Linked DNA regions of Homo sapiens: region 2 is linked to region 1. The links come from fine-mapping of genetic effects on gene expression. Tissue or cell type: whole blood. Region 1 holds a variant in brackets; the other region holds the start of a gene. All regions are shown on one strand. Distances are from middle to middle.

Region 1 (8,100 bases):
CAGATCAGGGGCGGAATTACATTCTCATAAGAGCGTGAACCCAGGCCGGGCGCAGTGGCTCAAGCCTGTAATCCCAGCATTTTGGGAGGCTGAGGCGGGTGGATCACGAGGTCAGGAGTTCGAGATCAGCCTGGCCAAGATGGTGAAACCACGTCTCTACTAAAAATACAAAAATTAGCCGGGTGCAGTGGTAGGCACCTGTAGTCCCAGCTACTCGGGAGGCTGAGGCAGGAGAATCGCTTGAACCTGGGAGGCGGAGGTTGCAGTGTGCCGAGATCGTGCCACTGCACTCTAGCCTGGGTGAGAGAGTGAGACTCCATCTCAAAAAAAAAAAAAAAAAAAAAAAGAGCATGAACCCTGTTGTGAACAGCGCATGTGAGGGATCTGGGTTGCAAGCTCCTTATGAGAATCTAATGCCTGATGATCTGTCACTGTATCCCATCACCCCCAGATAGGACCATCTCGTTACAGGAAAACAAGCTCAGGGATTCCACTGATTCTACATTATGTTGAATTGTATAATTATTTCATTATATATTACAATGTAACAATAATAGATGGAGATGGTTGTGGCTTGTGTAGTTGGGGGACAGGGTAGCTCCATTTTCTATTGCCAACTTTATAACCCTAGAAGGATGATTTTTTTCTTTTCTTTTCTTTTTCTTTTCTTTTTTTTTTTTTTGAGATTGAGTCTTGGTGTTGTCAGCCTGGGCTGGAGTGCAATGGTGCAATCTCTGCTCACTGCAACCTCCGCCTCCTGGGTTCCAGCAATTCTCCTGCCTCAGCCTTCTGAGTAGCTGAGATTACAGGCACCCACCACCACGCCTGGCTAATTTTTGTATTTTTAGTAGAGATGGGGTTTCACCATATTGGCCAGGCTGGTGACGATGGTTTTTTTTTTTTGAGACAGAGTCTTGCTTTGTTGCCCAGGCTGGAGTGCAGTGGCGCAATCTTGGCTCACTGCAACCTCTGCCTCCCAGGTTTAAGCAATTCTCCTGCCTCAGCTTCCCAAGTAGCTGGGATTACAGGCACCTGCCACCACACCTGGGTAATTTTTGTATTTTTAGTAGAGACAGGGTTTCACCATGTTGGCCAGACTCGTCTTGAACTCCTGACCTCAAGTGATTCATTTGCCTCAGCCTCCCAAAGTGCTGGGATTATAGGTGTGAGCCATTGCACCTGGCCCTAGAAGGAAGATTTAACAGTAAAATATACTTAAATGCTGGGCTACCTCCGCAGACTAGCTCAGCCTCTTTGGGTCTCAAATCAGCCTGGCCGGGAGGCTGAGTGGAGGTTACAGTCTCTGCTTTCTTGAATCCCAAGGGAGGGGTTTAAGCCAACTGCATTCCTGAGCTTTTGCCCAGAAGGCTGGCGTCTTAGGAGGAAAGAGATAGATGGCTCCAGGCCGGGCGCAGTGGCTCACACTTGTAATTCTAGCACTTTGGGAGGTTGAGGTGGGTGATTGCCTGAGCTCAGGAGTTTGAGTCCAGCCTGGCCAACATGGCGAAACCCCGTCTTTACTAAAAATACAAAAAATTAGCCGGGGGTGGTGACACACACGTGTAATCCCAGCTACTCGGGAGGCTGAGGCAGGAGAAGTGCTTGAACCCAGGAGGCAGAGGTTACAGAGAGCCGAGATTGCACCACTCCACTGCAGCCTGGGCGACACAGCAAGACTCTATCAAAAAAAAAAAAAAAAAAATGAGAGAGAAGAGATGGCCCCAAATAGGGAAACCAAGGCCAGGAGAGGGGCCGAGCCTGCACAGGAGCTTCCTCGGTTTTCCGAGCGCCGGCCCCCCTTCTCTGCCTGGGAGGAGGTGGTTAGAGTCCCCTGGGTGTGTGCCCCGCAGAGGGAGCTCTGGCCTCAGTGCCCAGTGTGCAGACCAATGAGAGCCCCAGAGAGAAAGACGGTCATTTCCTCCCTGCATCTTCCCTTGGGGCTTTAAAAACCACAGCCCTTGGGCAGGAGGGACCTTCGATCCTCGGGGAGCCCAGGAGACCAGAACATGGTGAGTCTCGAAGGGGAATGGGAGCAGGAAACTTTGTCCTGGGTCCCTCCCATCTTTGCTCCAGTGGGTCCTTCTCTCTCCCCAACTCTCGCCGTCAACTCTGTCTGTCTCTCCCTTTCCTTCTCTCTCCCTGTCTTCCACCTCCCACCTTCCCTCTCTCCTGCATCCCAGGCTCTCACACTCCAGGGCTGGGATGTGGCCATGGGAATAAGATTGTCAAGATTGTGGGAGCAACAGCAACCTCGTGGGGCTGGGGCCCGAGAAGATTCCCCAGGGGAGGGGACCCTTGAGTTGGGTCTAGTAAGGTGACTAAGAATTCCACAAGCAGCCGAGCGCAGTGGGTCACACCTGTGATCCCAGCACATTGGGGATTGTGCCAAGGCGGGAGGATTGCTTGAGGCCAGGAGTTCAAGACCAGCCTGGCCAACATAGTGAGACCCTGTCTGTATTTTTTTTTTTATTTAAAGAATTCCACAAGTGAAGAAATCTAGAACAGGCCTTCCAGGCAGTGGGAATGGCAGAGAAAATGTTGGGAGGCTGGAAAGAACCAGTTTGGAGGAATGGTCAAGTTACTCAGATGCTCTTGCAGATAGATGTTCTTTTCTTTTTCGACTTGGGGTCTTGCACTGTTGCCCAGGCTGGAGTGCAGTGGCACCATCATAGCTCACTGCAGTCTTGAACTCTTGGGCTCAAGTGATCCTCCCTCTTTAGCCTCCTGAGTATCTGGGACCACAGGCATGCACCACTATGTCCGGCTAATTTTTAAAATTTTTATTCTTGTAGAGATGGGTTCTTGCTATGTTGTCAGGGCTGGTCTCAAATTCCTGGCCTCAAGCCATCCTCCCACCTTGGTCTCCCAAAGCTCTGGGATTACTGGCATGAGGCCATTATGCCTGGTCGTTTGAGATGTTCTGCATGACAGAGATGGGGAAACTGAGGCCCAGGCAGGAGCAGAGATGGATGGGGACCCTCCATGGTTGGTGGCAGAAGCAGGTTATGCCATGGATTCTGTGAGTGTCAGAAGGAATGCACCCCAGGCTAAATGAGGGTCCCTGTCATCCCTGCGTCTGGAGGCCTGGGCACTGAGCCAGCAGAGCTGCGATTCAGCACCTGCTGTAACACAGGCATTGCCTTGCTTCATCTGTGTCAAAGAGGAAACGGAAGATGGTTTGGATGGACCAGGGAGGGGTCTGATGTTGCTTCATTCCTGCATTCCACCCTTGAGATCCGACTTGGGCAAACGGGACTCTCTGATTCTTCTTCTTCTT[T/C]TTTTTTTTCTTTCCAAAACATTTTCCAAAGTACCAAATGATACTTGGTAAAAACTCATTCTCGGCCAGGCGCGGTGGCTCATGCGTGTAATCCCAGCACTTTGGGAGACTGAGGCGGGCGGATCACAAGGTCAGGAGATTGAGACCATCCTGGCCAACATGGTGAAACTCCGTCTCTACCAAAACTACAAAAATTAGCTGGGCATATAAGCGGGCGCCTGTAGTCCCAGCACTTGAGAGGCTGAGGCACGACAATCGCTTGAACCCATGAGGCAGAGGTTGCAGTGAGCCGAGATTGCTCTACTGCACTCCAGCCTGGCAACAGGGCCATCTCAAAAAACAAACATAGAAAAAAAAAAACTCATTCTCCCTGCCTACCCCAGAGCCTCTGACTCCTTTTCTTTCCTTTTATTTTGAGACAGAGTTTCACTCTTGTCGCCCAGGCTGGAGTGCAATGGCACGATCTTGGCTCACCACAACCTCTGCCTCGCGGCTTCAAGCAATTCTCCTGCCTCAGCCTCCCGACTAGGTGGGATTACAGGCATGCGCCACCACGCCTGGCTAATTTTTTGTCTTTTTAGTAGAGACGGAGTTTCACCATGTTGGCCAGGCTGGTCTTGAACTCCTGACCTCACGTGATCCACCCACATTGGTCTCCCAAAGTGCTGGGATTACAGGTATGAGCCACCCTACCTGGCCCTCTGACTCCTTTTCATTGCCTCCTACCCTACCTGGGGCAACCATGGGATGCCAGTTTGTGGTGGATCCTTCCAGAAACAGTTTACAGATGCCTGAGAGCACAGATGCTTAGGGAACAAAGTAAGGACTAGTGTGATGCGGGGAACCCCAAAACCGAGCTCAGCTTCTGTCTCTACTATGAAATAGTTGCGGAGATCTGTCCTCTCCGTGCTTCTGTCTCCTTATCTTTTTGTTTTTTGAGACAGTGTCTTGCTCTGTTGCCCAGGCTAGAGTGCAGTGGTGTGATCTCAGCTCACTGTAACCTCCACCTCCTGGGTTCAAGTGATTCTCCTGCCTCAGCCTCCCAGGTAGCTGGGACTACAGGTGCCTGCCACCATGCCTGGCTAATTTTTGTATTTTTAGTAGAGACGGGGTTTCACCGTGTTGGCCAGGCTGGTCTTGAACTCCTGGCCCCAAGCAATCTTCCCGCCTTGGCCTCCCAAAGTGCTGGGATTACAGGCGTGAGCCATCGCACCCAGCCTCCTTCTCCTTATCTTTAAGGTGAAGATAATACTAGAATCTACATCATAGGCTAGTTGAGAGAATTGACTGAGTGAATGCATGAAAAGTTCTTGTAGCAGTGCCTGGTATACAGTTGGCGCTCAATGTGGGTGACATTTCTATCCTTTCCCAGCCTTATAAATGGCAGTATGTTTTGTACAGTACTCTACATCTGGCTTTTTTAAATGAATAACATATAGTATTATTAACTAGCATTTATTGAGTGCTTACTGCATACCAGGCGTTGTATTAGGCATTCATTAATTTCCCCTTAACCTTGAGGAAGGTACTTCATTCCCGTGTAGTTCAAGGGAGTTGCCTCCTCCTCCTCCTCCTTTTTTTCTTTTTTCTAGACAGGGTCTACTGAGGTCTTCCACCTCAGCCTCCTGAGTAGGTGGGACTACAGGTGCATGCCACCACACCCAGCTAGATTTAAAATTTTTTGTAGAGGTGGGGTCTTGCTATGTTGCCCAGCCTGGTGCTTCTTTCTTTCTTTTATCAGCTGAGTAATATGCTAGTAGGAGGTTTCATCCCCTTCAATGGAAATTTAGTTTGCTTCTAATATTTGGTCTGTTTTGTTTTGTTTTGAGACAGAGTCTCGCTCTGTCACCCAGCCTGGAGGGCAGTGGTGCAGTCTTGGCTCACTGCACCTCTGCCTCCTGGATTCTGGTGATTCTCCTGCCTCGGCCTCCCAAGTAGCTGGTATCACAGGTGCGTGCCACCACACACGGCTAATTTTTGTATTTTATTTTAGTAGAGACGGGATTTCACCATGTTGGCCAGGCTGGTCTCGAACTCCTGACCTCGTGATCCACCCGCCTCAGCCTCCCAAAGTGCTGGGATTATAGGCGTGAGCCACCGCGCCTGGCGTCCAGCCACATTCTTTAACTCAGCATCTGCAGACCTTCCAGTCCTATCTTGGCCGCCTGCCAGCCATGCTGACCTTTCGTTTCTGCTGTGCACCACCTGCCCTTCCTCTCTCCTTTCTGCCTAGAATGCATGCCCCCCCACTCCCAATGCACTTTAGGCCTGCCTGGTAGCCACTCAAACAGAGGGCTCTGGGCTGGGCGCGGTGGCTCATGCCTGTAATCCCAGCACTTTGGGAGGCTGAGGTGGGTGGATCACGAGGTCAGGAGATCAAGACTATCCTGGCTAACACGGTGAAACCCTGTCTCTACTAAAAATAAAATTAGCCAGGCATGGTGGCGGGCACCTGTAGTCCCAGCTACTCGGGAGGCTGAGGCTAGCAAATGGTGTGAATCCAGGAGGCGGAGCTTGCAGTGAGCTGAGATCGCGCCACTGCACTCCAGCCTGGGGACAGAGCGAGATTCCGTCTCATAAAAAAAAAAAAGAGAGAGAGGGCTCTGGGGCTCAGCTCTCAGGAGTTTCTCTCCTGTCTCTGTTCTTGCTAACCGAGAAGACTTGGAGAGGTCTGTTCATTTCTCTGTAGCCTCATTTTTCTCTTCTGGAAAATGAGTGTTGCTGTTGCAACAAGTAAGTCTCCTAGGGTTGCTTTGTGGGTTCAATGAGATAATACACGAGAAAGGCTCAGGACAGCCTGGCAATGATTATGGCTGTTCTTGTAGGTACTGCGCCTTCTCCTTCACCCTGTTCTCATCCGATCGTTCACATCTTGCGGCCAGCACCCTTGTCTAAGCCACCGTCATGCCTCACGTCACCTGGACAGTTCCAATCTCCGTTTCCTCCCAGCTTCTGCTCTCTGCCCCTTTCTCCATGCAACAGACAAGGGTTGTTCCTCTAATGAGCATGTGAATTTAGGAAGAATAATAGTACCCTGCCCTTTGTGCTATTGTCACATAGATATGCACTGTGATTAGGAAATTACTAAGCCAACACCTGGGAAGCACATGGAATAGTGCCGGGCAATTAGAACCCCCAGAGTGGCCCTGGACCTGCACTGCCCAATATGTGGGCCACGTGCCACAATGCAGCTACCTACGTTTATTTTTCACTATTTTATTTTATTTTACTTTATTTATTTTATTTTTGAGATGGAGTTTTGCTCTTGTTGCCCAGGCTGGAGTATAGTGAAGCGATCTCGGCTCACTGTAGCCTCCACCTCCCGGGTTCCAGTGATTCTTCTGCCTCAGCCTCCCAGATAGCTGGGATTACAGGCGCACGCCACCACTCCTGGCTAATTTTTGTATTTTTAGTAGAGACAGGGTTTCACCATGTTGGTCAGGCTGGTCTTGAACTGCTGACCTCAGGTGATCCACCCGCCTGGGCCTCCCAAATTGCTGGAATTACAGGCGTGAACCACCGTGTCCAGCCTATTTTATTTTTTAGAGATGGAGTCTCGCTATGTTGCCCAGGCTGGAGTGCAGTGGCACGATCTCGGCTCACTACAACCTCCACCTCCTGGGTTCAAGTGTTTTTCCTGCCTCAGTCTACTGAGTAGCTGGAATTACAGGTGCCTGCCATCACACCCAGCTAATTTTTGTATTTTTAGTAGAGACGGGGTTTCACTATGTTGGCCAGTCTGGGCTTGAACTCCTGACTTCAAGTGATCCACCTTCCTTGGCCTCCCAAAGTGCTGGGATTACAGGCGTGAGCCACCACGCCTGGCCTCACCCTAGATCTTGGAGGTCTTTCCACATCATTATATAAACATTCTTTTTGTCTGTTTTTTTCCTTTTTGTAGGGATAGGGTCTTGCTAGGTTACCCAGGCTGATCTTGAACTCCTGGGCTCAAGCAATCCCCCTGCTTCAGCCTCCCAAAGTGCTAGGATTACAGGCATGAGCCACTGCACCTGGCCAACTTTTCCATTCTTTTTGATAGCTGTGTAGTATTCTGTTGCCTGGATGTACCATCATTAATTTAGCCAGTCCCCTCTTGCTGGACATGTCAGTTATTTCCAGTCTTTGGAGAGGTGCTGCAGTGGCAAACTTTGCAAGCCGTTTGCGTCTGAAGATCCCGGAAACCACAGGACGTTGGAATCAGCGTATTTTTTCTGCCTTTCTGAAGTCAACCAGAGGAAAGGACTGAGTGAGCTCATGGCAGGAACGGAGCTTTGTCAGCTGATGAGGGAGTGACAAGGCGATGTCAGAGCAGAGGGTGGGGAGGCTCCCCTTACGAGGGTCTGAGTCATTCTGCAGTCAAGGATTGCTGGGAGCTTGCGAAACCAGCAGAGGCAAAATTTACCTTCATGCGTCACAGCCAAAGGGAACATTCAAAATATTTAACAATGTGCTAAAGTGCAGAGGTCCCCTGGGCAGGGTCTAGGGCCTCCTGCTGCACCTAGCATTAACTCTTTAGTGACATGAACATGGCGACCTGGAGTGGGGGTGTCCCAGAGTAGGAAACAGGAACTTAGGGTGCTGGGAGCGGGCAATAGAAGAAGTGGGTGGCTGAGGGCAGGGGCTGTTTACCAGTGAAAATATTTTTAAAAATGTTAACCTTCTATTTGGAAATATTTTCAAACTTACGGAAAAATGACAAGAATGGAACAGGCTCATATACATATACATTTTACCTAGACTCTCCAAATTTACTGTATCTGTCTCTCCATTATCCATCCATCCATCCATCCATCTGTCCATCGATTCATCCATCCATCCATCCA
Region 2 (8,100 bases), 470 kb after region 1:
AGCAGATCACTTGAGGTCTGGAGTTGGAGACCAGTGTGGCCAACATGATGAAAGCCTGTCTCTACTAAAAATACAAAAATTAGCTGGGCATGGTGGCGCATGCCTGTAGCTCCAGCTTGGGAGGCTGAGGCAGGAGAATTGCTTGAACCTGGGAGGCAGAGGTTGCAGTGAGCCGAGATTGTGCCACTGCACTCCAGCCTGGGCAACAGAGTGAGACTCCGTCTCAAAAAACAAACAAACAAACAAACAAAAAAATATATATGGTATGTATATATTTATTTTGTATATATATTTTTGTGTATATACATATCTATATATATAATTTGTATTTATAGAGATGGGGTCTCACTATGTTGCCCAGGCAGAGGTTTGAGTTTTTGTTGAGGGCTCTGGGAGTCACAGAAGATAGCTCTATTTGTGGGTCATTCACTTTTTGCCCAGCCCTGTGTTGCTTTACATGCACTTGCTCATTAAATCCTCCCAAGATCAGGGGGATCAGACTGAGGTGGGTGGAGTCGACTTGAACTTTGCTTAGGGTTCTAAGAGGTAAAGACTAGGGGATCTGGGGACAGGGAAATCCCAGATAGAGTTAACCTTTTTTTTTTTTTTTTTTTTTTTTTGATACAGTCTCGCTCTGTCGCCCAGGCTGGAGCGCAGTGGTGCAATCTCAGCTCACTGCCTTCTGTCTCCTGGGTTCAAGTGATTCTCCTGCCTCAGCCTCCCAAGTAGCTGGGATTACAGGCGTGCACCACCACATTGGGATAATTTTTGTATTTTTAGTAGAGACAGGGTTTCACCATGATGGCCAGGCTGGTCTTGAACTCCTGAGCTCAGGTGATCTGCCTGCCTCGGCCTCCCAAAGTGCTGGGATTACAGGTGTGAGCCACCTCATCAGGCTGAGTTTATTGAGTTATCCCCGTGTGCCAGTCAGAGCTCTAGTTCTTCCTACCTGTATAAACTCGCTTACTGCTCACATCAACCATCTAATGGAAGTGCTGTTTTCATGTTGTTTCCTGCCCTTTGTCTCTACCTGCCAGATCACTCCCATGAAGGAAGGGACTTTGTTTATTTATTCATTGCTGTATCCCTGGAAACTGGGACTGCAGGTGGTTATGAAGTACCTATTTGTTAAATGAGTGAACATTTCCTGTAGGCAATTACACCCAACTTCCAAATGGAGAAACAGGCTCAGAGATAAGCCCCTGCACCCTCACTCCTCAACTCAACTGCCTGTTTCTAGCACTTTCCATGACGATCCCCTCTGCACGGAGAGGGTTCATGGGGAGTGACTATTGTTCTGTAATGAATGACCAGGCTGTGCCAGGTCCGGCAGTAGGCCTTTTCCTTTTCCTTTTTTTTTTTTTTTTGAGATGGAGTTGAGTTTTGCTCTTGTCGCCCAAACAGGAGTGCAATGGCGTGATCTTGGCTCACTGCAACCTGTACCTCCTGGGTTCAAGTGATTCTCCTGCCTCAGCCTCCCGAAGAGCTGGGACTACAGGCATGCGCCACCACGCCTGGCTAATTTTCATATTTTTAGTAGCGACGGGGTTTTGCCATGTTGTCCAGGCTGGTCTCGAACTCCTGACTTCAGGTGATCCACCCACCCTGGCCTCCCAAAGTGCTGGGATTTCAGGTGTGACCCACTGTGCCTGGCCAGGCCTTTTCCTTTCTTTCTTTTTTCGAGACAGTGTCTTACTCTGTTGTCCAGGCTGGGGTGGCAGTGGCACAATCACGGCTCACTGCAGCCCCAAACTCCTGGGCTAAAGTGATCCTTCCACCTCAGCCTCCCCAGTAACTGGGAGTACAGGTACATGCCACCACACGGACTAATTTTAAAAGTTTTTGTAGAGATGGGGTCTTGCTATGTTGCCCCAGCTGGTCTCAGACTCTTGGGCTCAAGCAGTCCTCCTGCCTCGGCCTCCCAAAGCATTGGGATTACAGGTATGTGCCACCGTGCCCAGCCGCAGCAGGCCTTTTGTTTTTTTAGAGAGGGTCTTGCTTGGTGGCCTAAGCTGGAGTGCAGTGGTGCAATCACGGCTCACAGCAGCTTCCAAACTCCTGCGCTCAAGCGAGCCTCCTGCCTAAGCCTCTCAAGTAGCCTGGGACTGTAGGCACACACCACCACGCCCGGCTGATTTATTATCTATTTATTTATTTGAGGTGGAGCCTCGCTCTGTCACCCAGGCTGGAGTGCATTGGCCTGATCTTGGCTCACTGCAACCTCCGCCTCCCAGGTTCAAGTAATTCTCCTGCCTCAGCCTTCCGAGTAGCTGGGACTACAGGCACGCGCCACCACGCCCATCTAATTTTTGTATTTTTAATAGAGACGGGGTTCCTCCATGTTGGCCAGGCTGGTCTTGAACTCCTGACCTCAAGTGATCCGCCCGCCTCGGCCTTCCAAAGTGTTGGGATTACAGGCGTGAGCCAACGCACCCAGCCACTAATGTATTATTATTATTATTCTGTAGAGACGCAGTCTGGCTATGTTGCCCAGGCTGGTCTTGAATTCCTGCCTCTGCCTCCCAAAGCGCTGGGGTTACAGGCGTGAGCCACCGCGCCCTGCGGCTGCAGGTCTTTATAAGGCAACTGTGGGCCCTGGACCGCTCCCTGAAAACCTCCCCCTCAACTCCCTGTCTCCTCCCTCACCTGGTCTACCCCGAATCCTTCCCCTCTCGCCCCCTCGCCCTCTCCAGGGGAGGTGAGGGACTCAAGAATCGCGCCCTGCTTCTGTCCCCACCGCGCCGTCCCCAAGCCCACGCAGTGAAAAGACCACCCTTGAGGCTGATTCCGGGTCCAGCTGGGAGCGGCCAGCCGTAAATCACCGCCCCCGTGGGCCGTACCATTCTGGCCGGGGGGACCTGGGAGGGGACGCGCGGAGGGCTTCCCCCGGGGACTGCCTGTATCGAGACTCTCTCCAGCCCAACAGGAGGATGGGAAGGAGACTTGTGTGGGGGCCTCGGGCTGGCGGGTCGCGGGTTCCTTATCCTCCGCCTTGGCGCCTCTCCGCCCACCGCCCACCGCCCCTCCCTGGCATTGGTTGGCGCCAGGGGAAGCCGAGGCTCCATCCTTTCTGCGCAGGTTCCCGCCGCACTCGCGCAGACCTAGCGCGTCCAGGTGGGAGGTTAGTGTGGCCCGGGCGTCCGCTCCTCAGCGGATGTGGCAGCCCCGAGCCATGGCTCTCGCCGTCCGAGTCGTTTATTGGTAAGCCCAGCGGCCAGCGGCCCCCGTCCCCGACCCCCGCCGGGACCCGATTCTCGGAGCCGGGGTCAGGGAGCCCCGGGGAGAGGACCCATGGGAGCCCTTGTATGGGAAAAGGGAGCCCCTGTATGTGGGTGGGGTGGGCGTACGGAGGGGCGAAAAACAGAGGGCGGTCGTCCCTAGGCCCCGTCTTCGACTTGTGACACGCTGGGCATCTCGGGTTATAAAAGGTGGGGCTGAGACGAGTGTGTGTCAATTTCGAACCCCCGACTCCGGGGCTCCGCTGGGGAAGGGGCTGGGGGTCAGCTTTGTAAAGGGACCTAAGGCTCCTCCACCCTAAGGCTTCCCCTCCCCCAATATCCCGAACAGTCGCGGGGTGGGGACAGTGAGAGCCCAGAAGGTTCGAGAATGTCTCAGCCTGTGTTTCAGAAGCACTTGAATTGTTGGCCTCTGCCCAGTGGGTTCCCTTGGCCACGAACCCCACTCCTTTTCTGGCCTCAGTTTTCCGTCTGTGGCAAGAGGGAGGCTCTGTGTCAATACCGAACACGCTTAATTTCTGCAAGTCTCAGGAAGGGTATAATAGGATAGGATATAAATTACGTTCTCTCCACTCCCCAGCACCTAATACTGTGTGGCATGCTGTAGGTATTTAATAAATACGTGTTCAATGAATTTATCCTCCCAGGAATCCCTTAAGAGAGGGGAATTTTAGGCCAGGTGCCGTTGATCACGCCTGTAATCCAAACACTGGGAGGCTGAGGCGGGTGGATCGCTTGAGCCCAAGAGTTCGAGACCAGCCTGGGCAACCCAGGGAGACCCCCCCCTCGTCTCTACAGAAACTTAAAAAGTTAGCCGGGCATGGTGGCGCACTCCTGTAGTCGCAGCTGCTTGGGAGGCTGAGGCAGGAGGATCACTGGAGCCCGGAAGGCGGAAGTTGCAGTGAGCTGAAATCGTGCCACTGCACTCCATCCTGGACAGCAGAGCGAGACTCTGTCTCAAAAAAAAAAAGTAAATTAAAGAGAGGAATTTTAGTTCTATGTTACAGGTGAGAAAACTGAGGCTGGGACTGGGGTGGGGGCAGGTCAGTAGCTTCAAGTCTGGACTGCAGGTGACAGGGGTAACTGGAACCTGGGTTTGTCGGCAGCTTTCCAACGTCTCTGCCTGCTCGACAAAGCAGAGGCAAGAGTGACATTTTGAGACGCCTACCAGGCCTGTACACCAGATTCCAGTCCCGAAATAGCCTGCTGTGGGGGTTGGGTGAGCCTGTATTTCACCCTGGGGACTGGGAAGGTGTTCAGAATCTAGGAGCTGCGGGGCCGGGTGCGGTGGCTCCTGCCTGTAATCTCAGCACTTTGGGAGGCTGGGGCGGGCCGATCCCCTGAGGTTAGGAGTTCGAGACCAGCCTGGCCAACATGGTGAAAATACAAAAATTAGCTGGGCGTGGTGTAAGAATCCAGGAGCCGCAGGGTTTTCCTTGGAGTGCTGCGAGGGCTGTGGGTGAGGGTGGTGGGCACAGGGAGTGGGTGGGGACCTTACGTGTGCTGTTCTTCTCCTAATCCAGTTCTCCTGGTTTTCCCCCGTCCCCGTCTCTCGTATTTGTGGTCTCCTTGTCTCCTCTCTCCCCTTTTTCCCCTCCCCCTTCTCTGTCTCTTGCTTGGTGTTGGTTTTCTGTGTGTCTCTGTGTGTCCCCGCGCCACCCCCTGTGCTGTGTCCCAAAACTCTGCCTGGCTGGTGCCTGTCTTCTCTCTTGAGGGCATCTGTCACCTCTTCTGCTTGGTCATCTGTGTTCCTCTTTATTTCTTCCTGGCCCCATCTTGCTCTCTCCCCACACCGCCTGTGTCTACCCTCCTCTCCCCGATCCCCCACTTCTCCCTCTCTCCCCTGGGCCCCAATGTCTTGGACTCTCCTACCAGTGGCGCTTGAGGCTACAAGTCCAAGGTAAGCAGAGTGGATGCCCGGGGGGCATTCCTGGGAGCTGGGGAGGGGTAGAGTGCATATTGGGAGGGGGCTGACTGGTATGACCCCTGCTGTGACCTCTCACCGCGTTTTCAGTATCTTCAGCTCAAGAAGAAGTTAGAAGATGAGTTCCCCGGCCGCCTGGACATCGTGAGTCTTGGGATGGGGAGAAAGACTTGAGCACAGCCACTGTGTCGGTCCGTTAGGCCTGGATGGCACTGCAGGGGGGTTAGGTCAGCCCTACGCCCTTCACCCATGTTCTCATCCCCCTGGGAAGGGGAGGGTCTCCCCAAGAGGACATCTTAGCCCCTCCAACATCTCCCCTACCCCCTTTCCTCAGTGCGGCGAGGGAACTCCCCAGGCCACCGGGTTCTTTGAAGTGATGGTAGCCGGGAAGTTGATTCACTCTAAGAAGGTATGTCTGTCTGTCCGTCCTGCCTGGTTTTGGGGCTAGCATGGGGTTGGGGCTGAGGTTGGTGTCTCGGTCCCAGCTCACCCCTTCCCTCTTCCTCCCCTCCCTAGAAAGGCGATGGCTACGTGGACACAGAAAGCAAGTTTCTGAAGTTGGTGGCCGCCATCAAAGCCGCCTTGGCTCAGGGCTAATGCGCCCTGAAGGCAGAGGTGAGGGGGCCCACTAGACAGGGACACCACCCTTTGGATCTTCTCCCTGCCCCATGCTCTGACTCCTTGGCCCAGGGTGGAGAGCCTGGGAGATGGGGGGGACATCACGTGTGTCCCCAGAGCGAGCGGGATAAAGTTAGACCCGGTTGGTGGAGGACAACAACTGAGATGGGGTCAGAGGTGTGCAGGGTGACAGCTGAGATGGTGATGGGTCAGAGATATGCAGGATGACAGCTGAGATGGGGTCAAAGGTATGCAGGATGACAGCTGAGATGGTGATGGGTCAGAGGTGTGCAGGATGACAGCTGAGATGGTGATGGGTCAAAGGTATGCAGGATGACGGCTGAGATGGTGATGGGTCAGAGGTGTGCAGGATGACGGCTGAGATGCTGATGAGTCAGAGGTGTGCAGGATGATGGCTGAGATGGTGATGGGTCAGAGGTGTGCAGGATGACGGCTGAGATGGTGATGGGTCAGAGATGTGCAGGATGACAGCTGAGATGGGGTCAGAGGTGTGCAGGATGACAGCTGAGATAGGGTCAGAGGTATGCAGGATGACAGCTGAGATGGGGTATGCAAGATGACAGCTGAGTTGGTGGTGGGGTCAGAGGGCTGCCCTAAAACAGCTCTCCTGGTTTGGGAATGAAAAGTGCTAGCAACCCAACGGTTCAGAATCCGGAACTCTAGGTCTTTGTCCCATTGCCAAGAAACAGTTCCCAACCCAGCAGGTCATGTGACAGCGTCCGGCCAAGTTCCCAGCATGTTTTGAGACAGAATTTCCTTGCTCCACAATTTCGAGTAGGTCACTAATTATCACCGGGCTCTGAACCTGAGAATTAGTTCTAGGAATATTCCAGACCTGATCCAGCTCCAGAAACTTACCCACTTTGGAACTGAACATGAGTCCAAGAATGCTCTAGAAACAAATGCTAACTCTAGAATGGATTGTCTGCTCCAAAAAAACCCTAGAGCTGACTCCCAGTTCTCCCCATAGAGCCGAGAATGAAATACACCACCAGCTCCCAACACACTGTAAACCTGAGCCCCCCTTCCCAACCCAGCAATTGAAAAATGTGAACCAGCTCCTAAGCACTAGAATTGACCACTAGTTCCTGGAGTTGGCTACTGGTTCCTTATCACTGTTTTTCTTTCTTTCTTTCTTTTTTTTTTGAGATGGAGTCTTGCTCTGTCTCCCGGGCTGGAGTGCAGTGGCGCGATCTCGGCTCACTGCAGCCTCTGCCTCCCGAGTTCAAGCAATTCTCCTGTGTCAGCCTCCCAAGTAGCTGGGATTACAGGCACATGCCACTATGCCCGGCTAATTTTTGTATTTTTAGTAGGTCTGATCCTGTTGGCCAGGCTGGTCTTCAGGTGATCCACCTGCCTTGGCCTTCCAAAGTGTTGGGATTACAGGCGTGAGCCACCGTGCTTGGCCTCCTTAAGCACTCTGAACCAAGTATTGTTTCCAGCCTAATACATTGTGGAACAAGTGGCAATTTCTATATGAACCTCAGGAACAAAGAACTACTTTCCAGCACCTTCTGAGTCTGATTTTCCAGTTTGTAAGCCAGTATGGTCCAGATAAGCGTGAAACCCAACCCATTCTAGAACAGTTACTAGCCCTTTTTCTGGTCTCTGGCACTGCAGGGCCTGGAGCATAGTTTATTTTTTGAGGTGGAGTCTCGCTCTGTCGCCCAGGCTGGAGTACAGTAGTGTGATCTCGGCTCACTGCAACATCTGCCTCCTGGGTTCAAGGGATTCTTGTGTCTCAGCCTCGTGAGTAGCTGGAATTACAGATGTCTGCCACCATGCTGGGCAAATTTTTTTTTTTTTTTCTAAGACGGAGTCTCTGTCGCCCAGGCTGGAGTGCAGTGGCGTGATCTCGGCTCACTGCAAGCTCCGCCTCCCGGGTTCACGCCATTCTCCTGCCTCAGCCTCCCAAGTAGCTGGGACTACAAGCGCCTGCCACCACGCCTGGCTAATTTTTTGTATTTTTTAGTAGAGACGGGGTTTCACCGTGTTAGCCAGGCTGGTTTTGAACTCTTGACCTCAGGTGATCCGCCTGCTTCGGCCTCCCGAAGTGCTGGGATTATAGGCGTGAGCCACTGCGCCTGGCCATACTTTTTACTCCCCTCTAACCTTCAGCACCAGTTCCCATTCCATGTTGATCTAGAACAGAGTATCCCATCCCAACACACTGTGGACCCAAGTACCAGCTCCCAGTGTGCCTTGTGCCAGAAAACTAGTTTTCAAATGCGTTAAACTCAAGTTCCATTTCCTAAAATTCTTTACCAGAGCAGAATGAGGTCATGTTCAATGTGAATTGGG

The links. PIP is the estimated chance that this variant, and not a neighbour inherited with it, causes the effect.
Region 2: it holds the start of SELENOW, and the variant in region 1 is fine-mapped to the expression of SELENOW in whole blood (TOPMed, PIP above 0.99).

What each region holds. Positions count from the first base shown.
Region 1 is chr19:47,307,890-47,315,989 of GRCh38, forward strand. It overlaps C5AR1 (complement C5a receptor 1), which reads left to right and starts at 1,972. Exons shown (of 2, transcript NM_001736.4): 1 at 1,972-2,009. The coding sequence starts at 2,007. RefSeq lists a silencer at 7,331-7,526 and an enhancer at 7,483-7,777. The variant T/C (reference allele first, on the strand shown) is at 3,278.
Region 2 is chr19:47,775,614-47,783,713 of GRCh38, forward strand. SELENOW (selenoprotein W) reads left to right here and starts at 3,090. Exons shown (of 6, transcript NM_003009.4): 1 at 3,090-3,201; 2 at 5,112-5,136; 3 at 5,251-5,304; 4 at 5,495-5,569; 5 at 5,677-5,775. The coding sequence starts at 3,173. The coding sequence ends at 5,757. RefSeq lists silencers at 2,978-3,237, 3,248-3,387 and an enhancer at 5,455-6,040.